Regions from separate parts of the Homo sapiens genome. Here regions 2 and 3 are each linked to region 1. Evidence: fine-mapped expression QTL. A gene starts in region 1. Each other region holds a variant in brackets. All regions are shown on one strand. Distances are from middle to middle.

Region 1 (2,756 bases):
ATGGATTCAATGTGGAAGGACATTCTAGGCAGGGGGAACAGCAAATGCAAATCCATGTGTCCTGGAATGAGCCAGACATGCTTCAGGTTCCATGGAGTTTTTTTTTTTTTTTTTTTTTTTTGGATTAAAAAATTTGGTGACTTTTCAAAGTTTGACAACCTCAGGATTAAACAATTTATCGAGCCCCTCTGCCATCTCACTCTCCATGAGGGCAGTCCAGGTTGAGACTCAGATACAAATCACCTTTATTGAGTTCTGCTGGGATGGACAGGTCACTTCATGTATACGTAGATCCTCTCCTTAATTCTATTTAAATCACTTAGGTGACTATCACCATCTCCCATCAGGGTTCGGTGACCTGCCCACAGCCTCCCAAGTAGAAAATGATCCAGGGAGCATGTGAGTTAATGATACATCACATCTGGAGCCAGGCAGGCATTTCATGGGTGGGGATGAAGATCTTCCCTCCAATTTCAGAAGTCTGACCTTGCAGGTTCTGAAGTAACTATATACATAAATATTTATAAGGAGAACCCTTTAAGCAGAGGGGTGACCATTTATCCATGAGAGATGGCTTAGGAACGGATTTGGGTTTTGGAGAGCTTCTCTAGCTCCTCCAGCTCCGCAGCCTGTCACACGCAGGATGACCTTTTAGAACAACTGAGTGCTCCATTACACTCCTCACTTGCGGATTCAAACTGTCTCTGGGCAGGGTCCCAGTTTTGCCTGTCCAGGGACACTGTGCACTTGGGTTGACTTTGGTAAATGTTTGAGTAAGGGATGAGTGAATAAATTCGGGGAGAGGGGTTGTTGAGGGAAGGCCACCCCTGGCTCTAAAGACTTTCCAGGGTTTATGGGGTGGCCACGCCTGTCCTGGATCCCCATGGTGCCTCTGGATGGGCCATTTCATCCTTCCTCCCTGTGGCCTCCACATCTTACAACCCAGCCTGGAGGGAGGGGCCGCGCAGCCCCGAGGGGCCAGGTCTCCCAGGCGGCGTCCACTCCCCTCGAGGGTGGAGGAGGTAGGTGGGGACCCCGGGCCGGCGGGGCTCGGCTGGGGCCCCTTCCCTGAGGTCTGCAGCCGCAGCCCTCTACCTGGCTCCCCGGCCGCCCCTTCGCGGCCCCAGATCGGGCGCACCCGGCGGGCACCTGGCCCGCCGCCCCCCGGGGGCCCCGCCAGCTGCTCCCGAAGCCGGCCCGGGGTGGCGGGGCGGGCCCGAGCGCTAGTCGACTCTGGGACCGGTCCCCCGGGGCGCGGCCGGGCAGCAGCCCCCGCCTCCCCGCCCCGGGGGCCGGGCCGGGCTCCCGGGGGGCGGGGACTCGCCCAGTGGCAGCAGCGTCCGGGCCGGCGGCGGGCGCCGGGCGGCTTCCTGCAGGCGGCGCCGGGGCGAGCCGTTGCCGGCTGCAGCCACCGCCGCCGGGTCGCCGGGTCGCGGGGGCCGCGGCGCTCGGGCCGCGTCCGTGCCTCCCGGGCGCGCTGCGCGGCCGTCGCTGCTGCCCGCGCTCGTGCCGCCGCCGCCGCCGCCGCCGCTGCTGCCGGTTACGCCAGCCCCGCCGCCGCCCGCTCTGATTCTGCGCATAGGCAGCCCCCAAGCCTGTCATTCTGCAAAAACACAGTTTACTCAACACACCACACACACTCGCACACACACGCGCGCACACACACGCGCACACCGGACCCCGCGCGCACACGCACGGAGGGCGCGAGCGAGCAGACGCGCACACCGGCGAGCCAAGTTCCGCAGCCTGGCATGGCTTCTGGGGACCTTTACGAGGTACGGGGACGCGGGGGCGCGGGCCGGCCCCAGTCAGCGGGCGGCGGCGGGCGGCGGCGGCGGGCGGCGGGGACCGGGCCGGGGCCGGGGCCGGGCGCAATCCGGAGTTGCCGAGCCCGCGGCGGCGGCGGCGGCGGCCGGAGGGTGGCGGGGGCCGGGCGCGCCTCCCGCCCGCCGCCCGCCGCCCGCCGCCTCCCGCGGCGCCCGCGCCCGCTCCCTCTTTCTCTTTCTCTCGCACACACACTCTCTTACTCCATCTACTTTGCGGCCTTGGAGGGGAAGGAGGAAGCCGGGCGGAGCCGGGGCGGGGGAGGTAGCGGTCCCGGGGAGGTGTTTCTCGCCCGACGAGCCGCCTCGAGTACAGAAAGTACAGGTAAAAGTCGGCGCCGGACGTGCTGGGAATGCGGGGGGGCGCGCCGCGGCCGGCGGGGGTGTGGGGCGGGGGTTGCGCGGCCCGGCTGGGCCGGGGGCGCGGGGGAGGAGGGGGGCGGGCGATCGGAGCGGAGCCTGGCCGGGGCGAGGCGGGGTCCCGGGGGGCTGCGAAGGGGGAGGCTGGGTGGGGGTTCGGGGGGACAACCGCCAAACCGCTCCCCGGGGTCCCCGGGCCACCTCCCTCACCCCCCACCTGCTGCCCCCGCACCAGCTCGGACGCCCTCCGGGCTCGGGCGTGGGGGTGGCCCTTGCGGGTGTCGTGCTCCCTGGGGGCGAAAGGGGGCGCTGCGGAGGGCCCTGGGTGGGAGGAGAACGTGGAAGTCTGAGGTGTTGGGGACATAGGACACAGATGCCAGCCCAGCGCCCAGTACTCTCGTCACCCTCAGTGGATACCTGGCTCCAGGTCCTAATGAGTAGTGGCCAGCGTTGGATACTCTCATGTCTTCCCAAAAGTGGCGAAGGAAGACATTAGTCTGGCATCTTTCAAACAATGGAGGAACACCCATGGTCTTTGGGGAGCAAGGGCTTAGGAACACAACTGTTACTGCT
Region 2 (2,756 bases), 160 kb after region 1:
TCTTTGTCAGCAGCGTGAAAACGGACTAATTCAATGAGGTTTGCAAATAATATCTTATATCTCATCATTTTAAGCTTATAACAACACTATTTGCATAAAGAAACAAACAATAACAAACTAATAAATATATAATTTTTTTTAGATGGAGTCTCGCTCCGTTAACCCAGGCTAGACTGCAGTGGCGAGATCTTGGCTCACTGCAACTTCCGCCTCCTGGTTCAAGCCATTCTCTCAACTCAGCCTCCCAAGTAGCTGGGATTACAGGGGCATGCCACCATGCCCAGCTAATTTTTGCATTTTTAGTAGAGATGGGGTTTCATCACTTTGGCCAGTCTGGTCACGAACTCCTGACCTCAAGTGAAGCACCCACCTCGGCCTCCCAAAGTGCTGGGATTACAGGCGTGAGCCACCACACCCGGCGACTAATAAATATTTTATACCTTAACTTCATCCCCCTGCTTTTCAACTTCTGTTTCTATTTATATCTTATTGTACTATGTCTTGAAGAGTTGTTGTAGTTATTATTTTTGACCTGCTCATTGTTTATCCTTTCTATTTAATAAGAGTAGTTTACATCCCACAGTTACAATGTTATAGTATTCCGTTTTTTTCTGTGAACTTGCTATTACCACTGGGTTTTATGCCTTCAGATGATTTCTTTCTTTTTTTTTTTATTTTTTTATTATTATACTTTAAGTTTTAGGGTACATGTGCACAATGTGCAGGTTTGTTACATATGTATACATGTGCCATGTTGGTGTGCTGCACCCGTTAACTCGTCATTTAGCGTTAGGTATATCTCCTAATGCTATCCCTCCCCCCTCCCCCCACCCCACAACAGTCCCCAGAGTGTGATGTTCCCCTTCCTGTGTCCATGTGTTCTCATTGTTCAATTACCTCCTATGAGTGAGAACACGCAGTGTTTGGTTTTTTGTCCTTGCGGTAGTTTGCTGAGAATGATGGTTTCCAGTTTCATGCATGTCCCTACGAAGGACATGAACTCTTCATTTTTTATGGCTGCTTAGTATTCCACGGTGTATATGTGCCACATTTTCTTAACATCCTTTTCTTTCTGATTGAAGTGCTTCCTTTAGGCATTTCTTGTGGGAGAGATCTGGTGTTGATAAAATTTCTCAGCTTTTGTTTGTATGGGAAAGTCTTTATTCCCCCTTCATGTTTGAAGGAGATTTTCACCAGATATACTATACTAGGGTAAAAGTTTTTTTGTTTTGTTTTGTTTTGTTTTTTGTTTTTCTCCTTTAGCACTTTAAATATGTCATGCCATTCTCTCCTGGCCTGTAAGGTTTCCACTGAAAAGTTTGCTGCCATATGTATTAAAGCTCCTACATTGTGTGCTATTTGTTTCTTTTTTCTTGCTGCTTTTGGAATCTTTTCTTTATCCTTGAGCTTTGGGAGTTTGACTATTGAATGCCTTCAG[A/G]TAGCCTTATTTGGGTTAAATCTGCTTTGTCTTCTGTAACCTTCTTGTACTTGGATATTGATATCTTTCTCTAGGCTTGGGAAGTTCTCTGTTATTATCCCTTTGAATAAACTTTCCACTCCCATCTTTTTCCCTACCTCCTCTTTAAGGCCAGTAACTCTTAGATTTGCCCTTTTGAGGCTATTTTCTAGATCCTGTAGGCATGCTTCACTGTTTTTTATTCCTTTTTCTTTTATTTCCTCTGACTATATATTTTCAAATAGCCTGTCTTCAGGCTCACTAATTCTTTCTTACGCTTGTTCAATTCTGCTATTCAGAGTCTGCTGCATTCTTCACTATGCCAGTTACGCTTTTTAGCTACACAATTTCTGCTTGATTCTTTTTAATTATTTCAATCTCCGTGTTAAATTTATCTAATCGAAGTCTGAATTCCTTCTCTGTGTTATTTTTAATTTCTCTGAGTTTCCTCAGAACAGCTACTTTGAATTCTCTGCCTGAAAGGTCACATATCTCCCTTGCTCCAGGGTTAGTACCTGGTGCCTTATTTGGTGAGGTCATGTTTTCCTGGATGATCTTGATTCTTGTAGATGTTTGTGTCTGGGAATTGAAGAGTCAGGTATTTATCTCTCCCTGTAGCCGCCACAGATGGGAATGTGCTGAGTCTCACCTGAAGCCACCAAGTCTCGGAGTCTTACCCAAGGCCCTCAACGTGGTACCTGTATATTGCTGCTGGTTATTCAGGGCTCTTCAGTTAGCAGGTGATGAATCCTTCCAAGATGGGATCCTTCCCTTGAAGGCAGCAGGTTCCCTTCTGGCCCAGACTGGGCCTCATGACTCTGACCAGTGCCCCATCCTGCTGTGACTGAGCTGTTATCCAAAATGCAAGACAAAGTCCTCCCTACTCTTCTCTCTCCTCTCCTCAAGTGGAAAGGAGGGATCTCTTTTGGATACTTGAGGTGTGCAGTCTGGTGTTAGGAGAGCGGTGATACCAGCACTCCCTTAGCCACCCCAGCTGGTGTCTCAGTGGATTGTGTGCCCCCTGAGTCTACTGGCTCTGGGCCCATTGCGGGACTAGGATTGGCCTTGGAGGTCTAGCCCTTGTGGCCTAGACCACCTTTCAGGTTTATCTAGGGCCCCAGAGCACTTTATCCCATTGTGGCAAGACTTGCAGGAACTCAAGTTCTGACCACTGGGATATCAGTGATTCCCCTCTGGCTAGGGCTGGTCTAAATGCTCCGTCATTGGGTAGACGTCAGCTGAGTTTGGTATGCTTTTGCTTTCTGCTATAACAGGACAACAGTGAGTTCAATGCCTCACA
Region 3 (2,756 bases), 28 kb before region 1:
GATCTTAAAGAATTTGTGTAGGCCATGAGGATCCACTCCAGCCACTGAATAGTCATAGAATTGAATCTAGGACATCACCGTATGCTACTACCATGCAGTTTTATCCCTTCTAAGAATCCAAATGCCCTAGTTTAATTTCTAAATTTTTGTTTTGTTTATTTTCACTAAAGCAACATGTTAGTGGACTGCGGAGGGAAGTGAATTCATGGCTGGTCCTCATCTTGATATCTTTTAATAGGATCATGAGGCAGTGTGGTAGGAAGAAAACGTTGTATTTAGTTAAAAAAAAAAAAACAAAGAGAATCTGCCTTTTAAGAGAGGAAGAGCATGGCTATCAGAAGTGAATGGCTCTTTGATGGAGTAAAATACTTTGATGAGACTTTGTGGTTGATGAAGATGTCTCTGTCTTGCTTTTTTGACTACTTCTAGGCAAAACCTAGATTTGTAAGGGTAAGTGAGAGAGCTCAACTGCTTCAGCTTAGAAAATAAGGATTTTGACTGTTTGTGGGCAGCCCAAGAATGAGGTAACTGAATGTGGGAAGCCCAAGAATGAGGGGCCCAGTGTGTGAGAATTGGATCCCAGAAATATGGCCATAGGCAGCCTCTGGGGAGAGACCAAGGCCATGAGAAGCTCCCCATGAAGGAGACATTATGGGACGTGTGTGAAAATGACACAGTTTTAAATTACGTGCGTTCTGGCTGTGAAGGAATGGTTGTAAAGAAACCACTTATATTATCCCTAAAAGCCTCAGTAAACGTTTGCCACACGATGTAACAGCTTTGGGATAGTTGCTGGGGAAGAGGGAAGGAGGCTGAGTGGGGTTCAGAAGCAGCAGGGAAGAGAGGTGACCCACAGGAGGGTAAGCCCTACTTCATCCACTCCTCTTTCCCATTCTCACTCTCTGAGGCACTGGAAAGGTCACAGGACCTCTCCTAGTACATGAGATGGGAGCTCGACACATTTTATTTGGAGAATAAAAGAAAATATGCCGTCATCAAACTAGAGCGTGTTGGGGGGCATCTGGTTTACAGAACTAAGTCAAGGAGAAGAACTCTCAAGCAATGGTGACATCTGCCAGCTCTGCAAAGTGGGCCCTGCCTTGTCACACAAGTCTCCTTGGGCAAATGTTTTCTATGTAGATTTTAGACACTTTCCTGTGACTTTCTCAAGGTCTTTTGGTGACACATGCAGCTTGAAGCTTTTGCAAGGGGCTGGAGTCTAATCTCTTCTTGCCCAGCTTGGCTGCAGGAGAAGAAGGGAGATATGTTAGGACTTGGCTTTGACTGAGGTGGTGTAGCCTGGGGTTGCAAGGGCTGTTGCCAAGGCTTTCTGGTGGCATCACATGCTTCAGGAGTTGGATGAATTTTCTGTCATCTTTTGGACTCTGTCGCCTCAAGATCGCTTGTTTTGTTGCATTGCAAAGATCATGTTAGCTGTGTCTCCTTGCCGTTCTGAGAGTGCCTGGCTGCCAAACACAGTCCAAGAACTGTTGAAGAGGCCTCTTGCTAAAGGTGACAAGTTGAAGATGCCAAGGCGTTTGCTGCAGTCATTTTTCTTGCCCAATCTTTATCATCTTCCATTAGTCAGGAGTATTAATGGACAGTCCTGGAGTGTCCAAATGGCAATAATCCATCTTT[T/C]TCCCAATCCTACCAAGGGTGTTTCAATGCAGCTGTTGGAATAGTAATGTTTGTGCATTATTGCTGTTCTCAGGGTACTGTAAACTTCTCCCCCTCCTGGATCTTTGCTCACTAAATCAGCCCTAACCCTTTCTCTTCAGTCTCTTTCTCTTGACTTTCCCCTAGATCTTGCCCCTAGACCATCACTCAGCTGGTTCCTCTTCATTGCCTCCATCTTAGTTCAAATGTTTCTTCTTTGGACAGTTTGGAGTTTTGCTCCCCCTCTTCCCTGCCATTCTATAGTAGGTTTTTTTTTTCTTAAAATAGTGCATATCATCTGGGTGCGGTGGCTCATGCCTATAATCCCAGCACTTTGGGAGGCTGAGGGGGTGTATCACGAGGTTAGGAGATAAAGACCATCCTGGCCAACATGGTAAAACCCTGTCTCTACTAAAAATACAAAAAAATTACCTGGGTACGGTGATGCGTGCCTGTAATCCCAGCTACTCGGGAGGCTGAGGCATGAGAATCGCTTGGAGCCGGGAGGCAGAGGTTGCAGTGAGCAGAGATCATGCCACTGCACTCCAGTCTGGTGACAGAGTGAGACTCCGTCTCAAAAAAAAAAAAAAAAAAAAAGGTGCATATCACTACCTGTATTGGCTTGTTTAATGGCTTACTTAGTGTCTTAGTCCGTTGTGTTGCTATAAAGGAACACCTGAGGTTGGGTAATTTATAAAGAAAAGAAGTTTATTTGGCTCATGGTTCTGCAGGCTGTACGTGAAGCATGGCCAGCATTTGCTTCTGGTGAGGGCCTCAGGGAGCTTCCAGTTATGGCGGAAGGCGAAGGAGAGCTGCATCACATGGCGACAGGAAAGAACAGAGAGGAGGAGGTGCTAGGCTTTTTCTTAGTACCCAGATCTTGCCTGAACTAATAGAGTAAGAACTCACTCATAGGTATGGCACCAAGACATTCATGCATGATCTGCCCCCATGGTCCAAAAACCTCCACTAGGCCTCACCTCCAATACTGAGGATCAGATTTCAACGTGAGATTTGCAAGGACAAATACCCAAACTGTATCACTTGCTTATTATCTTTCTCCCTCTACTAGAATATAAGCTCAAGAATGACCAGGATTG

The links. PIP is the estimated chance that this variant, and not a neighbour inherited with it, causes the effect.
Region 2: its variant is fine-mapped to the expression of CDYL2 in testis (GTEx, PIP 0.96).
Region 3: its variant is fine-mapped to the expression of CDYL2 in whole blood (INTERVAL, PIP 0.98).

What each region holds. Positions count from the first base shown.
Region 1 is chr16:80,803,169-80,805,924 of GRCh38, reverse strand. CDYL2 (chromodomain Y like 2) reads left to right here and starts at 1,327. Exons shown (of 7, transcript NM_152342.4): 1 at 1,327-1,775. The coding sequence starts at 1,752. RefSeq lists silencers at 1,047-1,106, 1,127-1,436, 2,047-2,116, 2,397-2,546.
Region 2 is chr16:80,639,826-80,642,581 of GRCh38, reverse strand. The region is part of intron 2 of CDYL2 (chromodomain Y like 2); the gene reads left to right. Among named protein-coding and RNA genes, the nearest start is that of LINC01227, 68 kb to the right of the region's middle. The variant A/G (reference allele first, on the strand shown) is at 1,439.
Region 3 is chr16:80,831,508-80,834,263 of GRCh38, reverse strand. All of the region lies in intron 2 of ARLNC1 (androgen receptor regulated long noncoding RNA 1), which reads left to right. Among named protein-coding and RNA genes, the nearest start is that of CDYL2, 28 kb to the right of the region's middle. The variant T/C (reference allele first, on the strand shown) is at 1,639.